2 separate regions of the Homo sapiens genome follow, and region 2 is linked to region 1. Evidence: fine-mapped expression QTL. A gene starts in region 1. The other region holds a variant in brackets. All regions are shown on one strand. Distances are between the middles of the regions. Region 1 holds the start of PRICKLE1 (prickle planar cell polarity protein 1). Region 2 has its middle 170 kb from the start of LINC02450.

What was found. PIP is the estimated chance that this variant, and not a neighbour inherited with it, causes the effect. A credible set is the group of variants that fine-mapping cannot tell apart.
Region 2: its variant is the best candidate, but not a certain one, in a credible set for the expression of PRICKLE1 in nasal epithelium (TOPMed, PIP 0.55).

The regions. Positions count from the first base shown.
Region 1 is chr12:42,586,726-42,592,103 of GRCh38, reverse strand. It overlaps PRICKLE1 (prickle planar cell polarity protein 1), which reads left to right and starts at 2,358. Exons shown (of 8, transcript NM_153026.3): 1 at 2,358-2,639. RefSeq lists an enhancer at 1,078-1,635 and a silencer at 2,105-2,354.
Region 2 is chr12:42,857,092-42,862,469 of GRCh38, reverse strand. No RefSeq gene overlaps it. Among named protein-coding and RNA genes, the nearest start is that of LINC02450, 170 kb to the right of the region's middle. The variant T/A (reference allele first, on the strand shown) is at 2,804.

The sequences.
Region 1 (5,378 bases):
TTCCCTGAGCTGAATATTATTACCCTCACTTACCAATGAGAAACTAAGCCTGAGAGAGGTTAACTACATTACCCCAGGCTACATTTGGTAAGCGGTGGGGCTGAAATTTGAAATCAGACTGTTGTGACCTCAGACCATCACATGCACTGGCCGGAGTAATTTTATGAGTCCTGGTTGAAGGCCAAGTATTCACCTTTGCAATGGATCCAAAAGATGCTGCCCAGCACACAGTCCAAAGAGGCAGTAATCCTCCAGAGGGAATGACCATGTATCATCCACAGTGCTCAGGGTGTCTGCTCCACATAATAGATGCTCAACAAACAAAACCTTTGTGAAGTCACTGTACAGCAATAAGATTTATTTCACCTATGGAGGTAGTGAAATTTTCTTTGGCAGTTCTGGAGGTTAGATAGAACCTAAAAGTTGATAGCTTAATAGAAGCATTTGTAACCCCAGCAAGATAAACAGACACAACTTCAAAGGCCAATTCCAATAAAATGCTGAGGGGCAAGAAAACCTGGTTTGTTCTTTCCCAGATTCTCGTCACCTGAGGTCAGGAGTTCGAGACCAGCCTGGCCAACATGGGGAAACTGTCTCTACTAAAAATACAAAAATTACCTGGGCGCGGTGGCAGGTGCCTGTAATCCCAGCTACTCGGGAGGTTGAGGAAGGAGAATCGCTTCAACACGGGGGCGGGGCGGAGGTTGCAGTGAGCGGAGATCGCGCCACTGCACTCCAGCCTGTGTGACAAGAGCGAAACTCCGTCTCAAAAAAAAAAAAAAAAAAAAAAAAAAAAAAAAACAACGCTAGCAAGTGGAATTATTTCAAAAGCAACAGCCTTGTTTCCTGAGTGATCTGAGCTCAGGAACTCTGCCTGGGCATCTAGACAGGAGAAAGTATCTACAGCGTGGGGAGATCTGAGTCAGAATTATAGAGCACAGTGCTGAAGCCATACATTTTCCTGGATTTAGACAGTTTCCTCCTCCATTTGCCTTTATTTCCTTGCATTCTCTTTTCATCGGCTCCATTTTTGCTGAGTATTCCTTTGCTTTATTCCCAACGAAAATCGAAAAGACTTGATGTTCTGAGAAATTCTGAGACTGGCAGTTTTGATTTTTCTTAAAAGGATAAAAATTGCATCAGTCAACACCTCCCTCCACACTCCCCCCACACACATCCTCATCTTCCTGGAAGATGATACAGTATCCTAGAGCGTTGTGGAGAGGATGGAGAGGTCAAGGAAGCCCTGGCTTTGCAGAGGCACCTGTCAAGTTCGGGTTAACAGCTGCCGCCTGTGTCTGCCCTCTGCAGTCCAGGGAAATAGTACCCACACGGTGAGACTCCACCGATCCGGAACTGGAGAGGGTGGGGGGTTCTAAGGTTTAGTGTGACACAAATGTCAGGGCAGAACTTTCAAACAGGCTGAGCCCCAGTTCAACGTGGGTGAGTGCGCCTGAGAGCCCAGCTCTGGGAATTGAGCAGACTGAAAATGTGGAGAGTAGTTTGGCCAGTGAAAAATTGTCACCGTGTTCGGATCAATGCTTTGAACCCGCTTTTAAGTGCGCCACGTTCACTTGGGTCAGGCTCTGGACATTGCGGTGGGCTGAGGTTTTCGCGGGCACGATCCCCCACACTGAGTTTTCATGGAGACGACCAGGGCCGTCGAGGCGGGGAAGGGAACGGACTAGAGGCTGAACTTTGGCTTCTTGCTCTGAAAGATCACTCCTCCGGTTCCGGGGCAGAGACTCAGACCAGCCTGTGGGATTACACGAGACAGGATCGAGTCCAAACGGGTCCCCAGCTCGGCAAGGCGCGCCGGAAGGAATCTAAGTGTTTAATTAACTGCCCCCTTCACACACCCCCCGAAGGAGAAGGAACTCAAATAGGCACCCCTACCCAAATCGTTTGATCAGAGGAAATTGGGTTTGTCTCTCCCCCACCCCCCACCCCGTCCCTTCACTCTTCCTGTGTTTCAGTCCATCGGGATTGTTGGTTAAAAAAAAAAAAAAAAAAAGGCTTATAATCGGGGGCGGGGCAGAGGCTCCGAGCGAGCCGCACTTGCGACTCTGGACCGCGGTTGGTGAACTTTTTTCTCCCTGCGCATAATCCGCCTGCTGCTCTGCCCCACTGGCTGCGCGTGGAGCCGGTCCCAGGCCTGCTCGCAGCCCTGCCCCCGGGCGCGGCCCGAGCCGGGCCCGACCTCGCTTTCAGGGCCGAGCCGGGGTACGCGTGGGCGCGCGCCCAGCGGCCTCGATCCCGCGGCGGCGTCCGCGCTCCGCGTTTTCGCTCGCGCCGGGCCCCGCGGCCGAGGGCGGGGTGCGCGGCGGCGCCGCAGCGCGCGGCTCCGGAGCCCGAGCGCACTCCGCCTGCAGCCCAGCTGCCAGCGCCGTCTCCCGCGGCCGCCGCCGCCCGACAGCGCGCCCGGAACATGCCAGCCTCGCGCAGCCTGCGCTGACTTCCCCGAGACGCGCCGCGGTCGGCACGGAGACTTTCTGGGCTCTGGATGGTTCGTGCGCTGCTCACCCTCGCCCACCCCTGACGCCGCGGACCGCAGCTCCTCAGCCCCGCAGCCCCGCAGCCCAGCAGCCCCGCAGCGGCGCCGAGGACAGTGCAGCCGAGTTGCGTCTCCCTCGCGCGAGGTGAGTGGCAGCCTGGATCCCGGCGGATTCCGCAGAGGGGGCTGCGGCGCGGTGGTGGGGGGCGAGCGCCGCAGGGGTAGGGCCGGGCACCTTCGCTGGCACCGCCGGAGTCTGTGACACCCAGACTGGGTCGGTGTCGCAGAAGATCAGGGAGAAGGTCATAATCGGTTTGTTGGGCTGTGTAGACAGGGAAAGCAGATATTGGCTGCAGCATCGCCAGGGCTCCGCAGAGGCTCTCCGCATGGCTCCTGTTTGCTGCATCACAACCAACTCTTCCCTTGGTTTTCTCCGGCGTGGAAACAGGTTCTGTAGCCCGAGGGTCGAGGCGATGCGGGGCGCCGGGAGGCGAGGGTGCGTTGGCGTGTTCCCGCCGCTTAGGATCGCCTGTCACCTACTGGCGTCCGGAGGGAGGGTACCGATTCTCTCCTCTAGCGCTGGGGAAAGGGGCTGGTGGCTTTTTGGCAGAGGCGAATCAACTCCCACCACTCTCCCCAACCCCCTGCCCCGCGATGGTGTTTGCTGAATGTAGCACAGATATAGGGAAAAAATGGGAGCGTCTTCCTCTCTTGAGGTAGAAAAAGTTGAAGAAACTAGGCATGTTAATAGTTATTAGGAGCGGGACTCAGGATGCAGCAGAAAGCTGTTAAATTTTCATTACCCTCTAAGAAAAACAAACGGCATCGCCAGTGACTATTGGCAGTGCTGTGTTATTCTTGGGACTTTGGGAAAATTGTTCACAGATTGTCTTCAGGAGGCTGAAGAACGAGGTTGGGGGTTGGGAGAGAGGGAGGACGGCTGCATCACGCTTAGTTCCAGCTTGCCTAAGGAGGGTTCAGGATCACAAGCCGAACGCGTTTGGTTGCTGATTTTTAAAAGGGTATCAGCGGCAGAACTGAGACCATGAACAAGGCAAACACACCACGGGAACCAGCCTAAAGGAAAAAAAAAAAGCACCAACAACTACAACCAAAAAAACATGTAAAAATCTGCCTCTCCTGCAGAGTTAACATGCATTTGTGCTATCAAATGGATGCATGTATATGTGTCTTTTAGGATAAGTTTTATGAATGACAAATCACTGAAATGGTATCTTGTATCTGTTCATGCATACAGTGTTGTCTACTGCCTCGTCTTAATCAGTACTTTGGAAGGCTGTGCCTGCAGTTGATGTTATATAATTGATGTGGTTCACCATCAGACATTTTTTAATGTACTTTAGGAGTAGAGGGAACTTCCATCTGTCTTTTCAGACAGGCCCAAGGTGTAGACTGGTGAGGGTTGCTAATGTTTGCCGTAGTCCGGCTCCAGATGTGTGAGCTCAGCTGTTGCCTGTCACTTAGGTGACAACTGGCCCTTTCCCACTAAGCCTTTGCTGTCTCCATTATCCTCAGTGAAGTGTCAGTGTTCAGCCGCCTTCTATTATCAGGAGTGGACTCTAGCCCCTTGGGAGCCGGCAGCCTTGTTTGACCGTCCCCAACATTATGTCTGTTTTCAGACTCTAGAAAGGAAAAAAAAAACAAAAAAAAATCCCATGACAGCAAGATAGATACATTTTGAATTGAGCATCAACTTAATCCAAAGATTCTGCTTTAATCAAGACAGTTCTGTAAGGATGACGCAGTATTTGTCAAGGCTTTTCTCTGGAACAATATTTACTCCCACCAGGGGATTTTAAACTTAAACAGCAGCCATTCATCTTGCTGTCTGGTGGAGCCTGGTTCAGTTTGCCTCCAATGTGGTCCTAGCCTTGGTGGCTAGGCTTGGCCTGGGACAGGAATCTGTCATTGTAGCCCAGCTGGAGCCTGAAGAAAGCAAAATACAGCACCTGCTGGTACCAGAGGGTTTCTAAATGCCATCAACTGGCGAGTCAGGAAACACAGAAGGAGATATTTTACCAGCTCTTCCAGAAATGTTTATACAAAGGATTTAGAGGTTAACAATGCATGTGCTCTACATATTAAAACCGAAAGGTGCTACAAATAAATGGATGTTACCCACAGTTAAGGGTTTGCACACTTGCTGATGAACTTGAAAATCTCCAAGTTTAATAAGTCATGGCTAATGTAGTATGATTCATTCTTATAAATAAGCCTCAAAAGGAAGGAAGGAAGGAAAAGAGGGAGGGATGGAGAGAGGGAGGGAAAAAGGAAGGAAAAACTGGATAGTTTATAGAGATAGACATATTGATGCAACTGAATGGGCTTAGTAAATTAATTTTTCCATCTTTAATTTGGTACTAATTGGCGAGTTATCACCGAGTGAGCCTGTTGGTTCATAGGTTTTAAAAAGAAAAATGATATATTTTACTAAAGTGACAGATTCAATCAGTTCTGCCAGTAACACCAGTGAAGCTTAAAAAGCTTATTATGTTTTTATAATCAAGGTCCATGGAAGCACTATTTGTCCATGGTGTGTGGTGGTGTAATAAGTCAGCTTGAGTCCCCCAGATAAAATCTAATATTAGCTAGGGAGAAATAAAGATCTCCTATAGGGTTAATAGCTGAACTCTTAACTTTAGAGTCAGATGTAGGTAAGTCTAGTTGTTCCTAATATTCTCTCTTTTGATAATTCTGAAAAGACCAAAAAAGTTAAATTTTGCAGTTTCTTTGATTAAGGCTTTTAAAAAGTAAGCTGAATTATAAGTTTTAAAAGTTGCATCATAATTTCTCTAAAATCTCTTATAATTACTTGAAAGCAAAATACAAAGAATTAAGTATTATGAGTGATTGTCTATAATAC
Region 2 (5,378 bases), 270 kb before region 1:
CCTTGCTTACTCCACCTCAGTCTCTCTAATGCTGACAGAAACAAAAGAAAGGACATCGTTGCTTAATACAAACACCTACCCATCTTAAAACCAAGGCTCCTCTCAGCAAAGAGGTCTCCAAAAACCACATCAATTTGTAATAATTCATGTTCCACTGAAAGCAGTTCCTCACACATCAGTAGGCACAAGGATGCACATGACGTAATCTATCACCAAGCTTGTTTCTTTATCCTTCTAGTGGATAACAATGACATTAGTCATTCACAAGACTGTAAAGTGGAATTTTAACAAGACCCCAACTTCCATTTTACTTACTCCTTTCCCCCTTTGAAACCCAGTAGCTCTTGCAGGCAACTGTCTACCCTTCTCATTTTCAATCCTGTTCTCCAGAAGGTTCTTAATAAATTTATTCAGACTATGACAATAGTAAGGAAATTTATCTCAGACACTGTTTGCATTAGAACAGTGGTCAAAGTGATTACTGGCGTTTTAAGGCAGGGAGGGAAGTTTTCCAGGGTGCCTGAAAACCCAAAACACAGAATATGGCCTAATATAGTCCAATCTGAAGAAACATCATGCCAGTTACATAAGGTTACTGGAAAACTTTGAAATCTTCAAGTATTCTAACTTCACAGCAGAAATTGAATCAATAGATGAATGAAGGATAGATGACAGATTGATAGCTAGCTAGCTCAGTCTTGTATAAGACAACAAGTTTGTCTCTTTTCAAATGTTCTGGCATGTCCTATTATCTTCCTGAAACATCCTATCAACTTCCTGAAGTGGAAATGTGATTAAATAAACATGACAATTCTAGATGAGCTTTCAAAATGATACAAAAGGGGTTCAGGTTTATTTATAGGGTTTCTGCCTGGGAATAGAGGCAGATGCCTGAAGGACACCATTGCATTAAGATACACTCATTTATATCTTGTAAAACTCTCATTTTACTTTGACATCCCTTAATTCTGCATCTCTTTCAGCTCCAGCAGTGGGTTCTTAGTTCTCCTTAGCCATCTTCTCCTTTTACCTGCTGCACTATTCTGGGTAACTGAGGCAACCCCTCAGTTACCCCTTTGAAGCCTAGTAGCTCTTGCAGGCAACTGTCTACCCTTCTCACTTTCAATCCTGTTCTCCAGAAGGTTCTTAATAAATTTATTCAGACTACGACTATAGTAAGGTAGTAAGGAAATTTATCTCAGACACCGTTTGCATGAGAAGTTACCCCCGCACTACTGCAAAGAAAACTCTGGGCAAAATTTTTTAATCATTCATATCGCACACATTGATTTTAAAGCAGATGGTTTTCACTCATTGAAGCTGCCCATAGTTGTATCCTTGATGCTTGCTGCTATTATCAAGCCTTCTCTCCTTAAAAAGTAGAAAAAGAAGTCAGTTGCTTCCACGTTGTTCCCTGTCTGACTAGCATCTTCCCTAGGGGAACCCATGATAAATCCAGATTTGTTGGAAGCTGTCACATAATCTGTTACAAAGAATAGTTAAAATATCTTATAATAATAAATGCTGTGATGGTTAATATTAAGTGTCAACTTGATTGGATTGAAGGAGGCAAAGTATTGTTCCTGGTATATCTGTGAGGATGTTGCCAACAGAGGTTAACATTTGAGTCAGTGGACTGGGAGAGACAGACCCATCTTGAATCTGGGTGGGCACCATCTAATCGGCTGCCAGTACATCTGGAATAAAGCAGGAAAAAGAACGTGGAAGGACTAGACTTGCTAAGTCTTCTGGCCTTCATCTTTCTCCCATGCTGGATGCTTCCTGCCCTTGAATATCAGACTCCAAGTTCTTCAGCTTTTGGACTCTTGGACTCACACCAGTGATCTGCCAGGAGCTCTCAGGCCTTCTGCCACAGACTGAAGGCTGCACTGTCAGCTTCCCTACTTTTGAGGTTTTGGAACTCAGACTGGCTTCCTTGCTCATCAGCTTGCAGACAGCCTATTATGGGACTTCACCTTGTGATCTTGTGAGTCAACATTCCTTAATAAACTTCCCTTCATATATACATCTATCCTATTAGTTCTGTCCTGCTAGAGAACCCTGACTAAACAAATGATTTACATGTTTGGGGGTGTATATAATACAGACCATAATGGGTTTATTCTCACCCACTTGCATTGAAATATCTATTCCTGGGAGGCAGAGAAGGTGACAGAAAACCCAGTAGGGCTGATGATGTGATGTGAAGGAAAGTGTCTATTCATGCTAAAGGCAGGAAAAAAAAAAGGGTCACTGCCTGGACTTTTCCGTTCTCTTTCCTAATCGCCTAATCTGATACAAGATTCCAGGTCAATGAATTTTGTTTTAAAAATCACTATCATAAGCCCTTTTTGAGGGAGGTGGAATAAAAGAGAGAGAGAGGAGGGAAGGAAAGGGAAGAAGAAAGGAATGAAGGATTTGATCCCTTCTGGCACCCTTTCACCAGGACTTAGCTCCATGTGGCCTGCTGGAAGTAACTAAGGGACTAACTCATGGGGGCAACTTTATAGTTCATGAAAGAGCAATTGCTGGAGTCAGGGGAAGAGGAAGTTGCTGAGTGAGAGAAATGGCCAAGCTTGGAGAGGCATTTTGGAACAAGGCGGGCTTTGTGGTGCCTCCTACATTATCGCCTCTTGGGGCACTGCCAGCTTGCCCACTCACTAGACAGCCGCTCCATCGCAAGGCTCTCTGTGCCTCCTGTCAAAGATCTCCGCTAATTCCTTTAGCCAAACTAAACAATTATGCAAAGTTTACAAGAAAGGCATAAGATATATTTCATACTCTCAAAGAGCTCGGAGTCCAA[T/A]TTTCCACGGTGGAAATCTCTTATACTTTGTAAACTATCCGAGGCACCACAAAAATTTTTCAACAAAGGGCAGATTGAAAACCAATTTGTAACTCTATTTGTGCTAATATTTCATTTTCTCCTGGTTTCCAAGAAATTAACCAGCTGCCTGGTCCAAAGGTAATGATAAAGTGAGCCCTAAATCTTCAGACCAAAGTTTGGGAATTCTGCTCGTCCAGCTTTCATAGAAAGGAATGGAAGTAGAACCTCAAATCACACATCAGGCTGCTAAGACCCCCTCCCCTGTCTTTAAATCAGCTATAACTAGTGCTTAGGGAAGAATCTGAACAGCAGAAGTTTCAAAACAATGGGTCTTTTAATTTCCAGTGTGTATGTTCTGTGATATGAAACCCTAACATTTAAAAATTTACCATGTATTATAATATACAACTCAGCTTTTTTTATGTTTAAAACATTCCCCACATTCCAGAGTGCTAATTTGAGGCTAAATGCCTGGAAAAATGGCTCCCTTAACCCCTTCATTGACATATAAGACCATTTCATATTTCTGTTGTCCCTAACTGCAAAGTTTTGATTGATGCATCACAAGTTCTGGGGTTCAAACAAAGTCTTTAAAAATTAAAGTGGGATGAGGAAAAATAGCAAAGAGTTGGGCAGTTTTACAGTCCTTGTTTCGGTCAGATGTGTTCCATTCAACTGCTGTTTAGCAAGGCTGACTAAGATGAGCGATGAGATGGAAAGGGGTTGAGGCGTGGACAGGGGACATTGAGGGAACAGACCCAATTTAGTGGATTTCTATGGAACCAACAGAAAGGATCCTTGATAGCTGAAAGCTATGGTAGCAGCCAGCAAGATAAAGCTTTATCTTTATCTCATGTTCCAGGAGGATCATCACAGTTGAGAAGGAACTTTAAGTAGCTAATTTGAAGTTACTTAGTTAGATTTTCTGATTTTTCTTTACAAAGTTTAATGATGGTTACCTTTCAGTCTTTAACCAATATTTTAAAATTATAACGTAGAGGTCACTGGAAGAAAATACGTGCTTCCGTTTCCATTTTATGAAGCTCAAGAGAAAAGAAAAAGTCAGTGTAGTACTCAAGGGAAATCTGCTTTTAAAAGCCAATGATTTCTTCTGTATGACTGCTCCCTAAGTTAATTTAAGCAGCTTGTTATTTGAAAACTATGTTATATTTTGGAAGGGGTAGTACTGCCTTTTTTTAGTCCTCTATTGAGAGAAGTTGAAGTGTACAGGCATAATTCCCCATTTCCTTCTGTCATCCTAAAGTAGATGCTTCTTCACGTGAGACAGGAAATCACAAAATACTCAAAACTATTTTAATATATTTTAGAATTCTACTGTGTAAACTCCACGGTGCTTGCTTGCACATTGTCAACGGAGGGTAAATAATACTTAAATGAGTATCTACTTTCTCAGCCAAGAGGACTATTTTCCTACCAAAATCTCCTTCCAATTTGACTTAATTATGCTCTAAAATGCTATCAGCAACGTTAAGTGTACTGTAAAATTAGAATTGTATTATAGTTTGTGTTCATTAGTATCCCCCTTTTGGTCTCTGAGAAGCTTTAGAAAGACTTCACACTCTTGTGGCTTAAAGAAATACCTCGCTACAGTTTCTAGAATAGTCCTGAAGCTGGGAGTGCACTGGGAGCCCACATTCCCCTCAGTGTCAATGTTCTAACCTATTTCCAAAGCAGCTCATTAAATCACACTTTCCCTTTGTATTGTCACCTACTGTTAGTTATTCTCATATATTTCACCCAAAAAACTGCTTTAACTACCCAAAAATATGATGTCCCCTAAGCTTTTTAAAAATACATAAATTAGAAAATCATTAGCATATAAATCATACCACTGGAAAAAATATTGTAGGTTGATGGAGCTAAGGTGGGTTTTCTAACACAAAGACAAGTTAGAAAGCCCAATGGAGAAAGAATATTTATTCATAAATCCAAGTGAAATTAATTGGAACAATTTAGTGACAGTTTCAAAACAATGGCACCCATCAGAGGTGCTGCAATTGTCTTTCACAGTGGACCCATTAGCCAGCACTCTATTTTAACTACTTTTCCTCGGGGACCAGCTTTACTCAATTAAAAATGATTTATGACTTTGGTTCTATTTTATAATCATTTTGGGGAGAGTTCATGCATCCACATACATATCCATCTAACTTTGGACTGAAAAAAATTTTCAAAAATTCCATAATCTGATTGGCTGACACTGAGAAGTGAAAGAGATTTAAGAGCTTGATATAATCAACATAAATGTTCCACTGATTCTCAAAACCAGGAGTACATTCCTTGCTGTCAGGCCTGTGGAACCACAACCCTGCCACTCACTCCACACATTTGGGCTTCTCTCTGTGGGTCCAGAGCTGCTCCATCAATCTCTTGCTTGTTTGATATCAGGAAGTAGTGACAGACCATTCTGAAATTTCAATTAATCCTATGCTTTTCAGTTAATGCTGAGTGCTTATGGATTACAACATGTTCTATATATCCTGCATCTTAAATCTGCCCTTTAAAATAAAATATGGAAGGAAAACATACATTT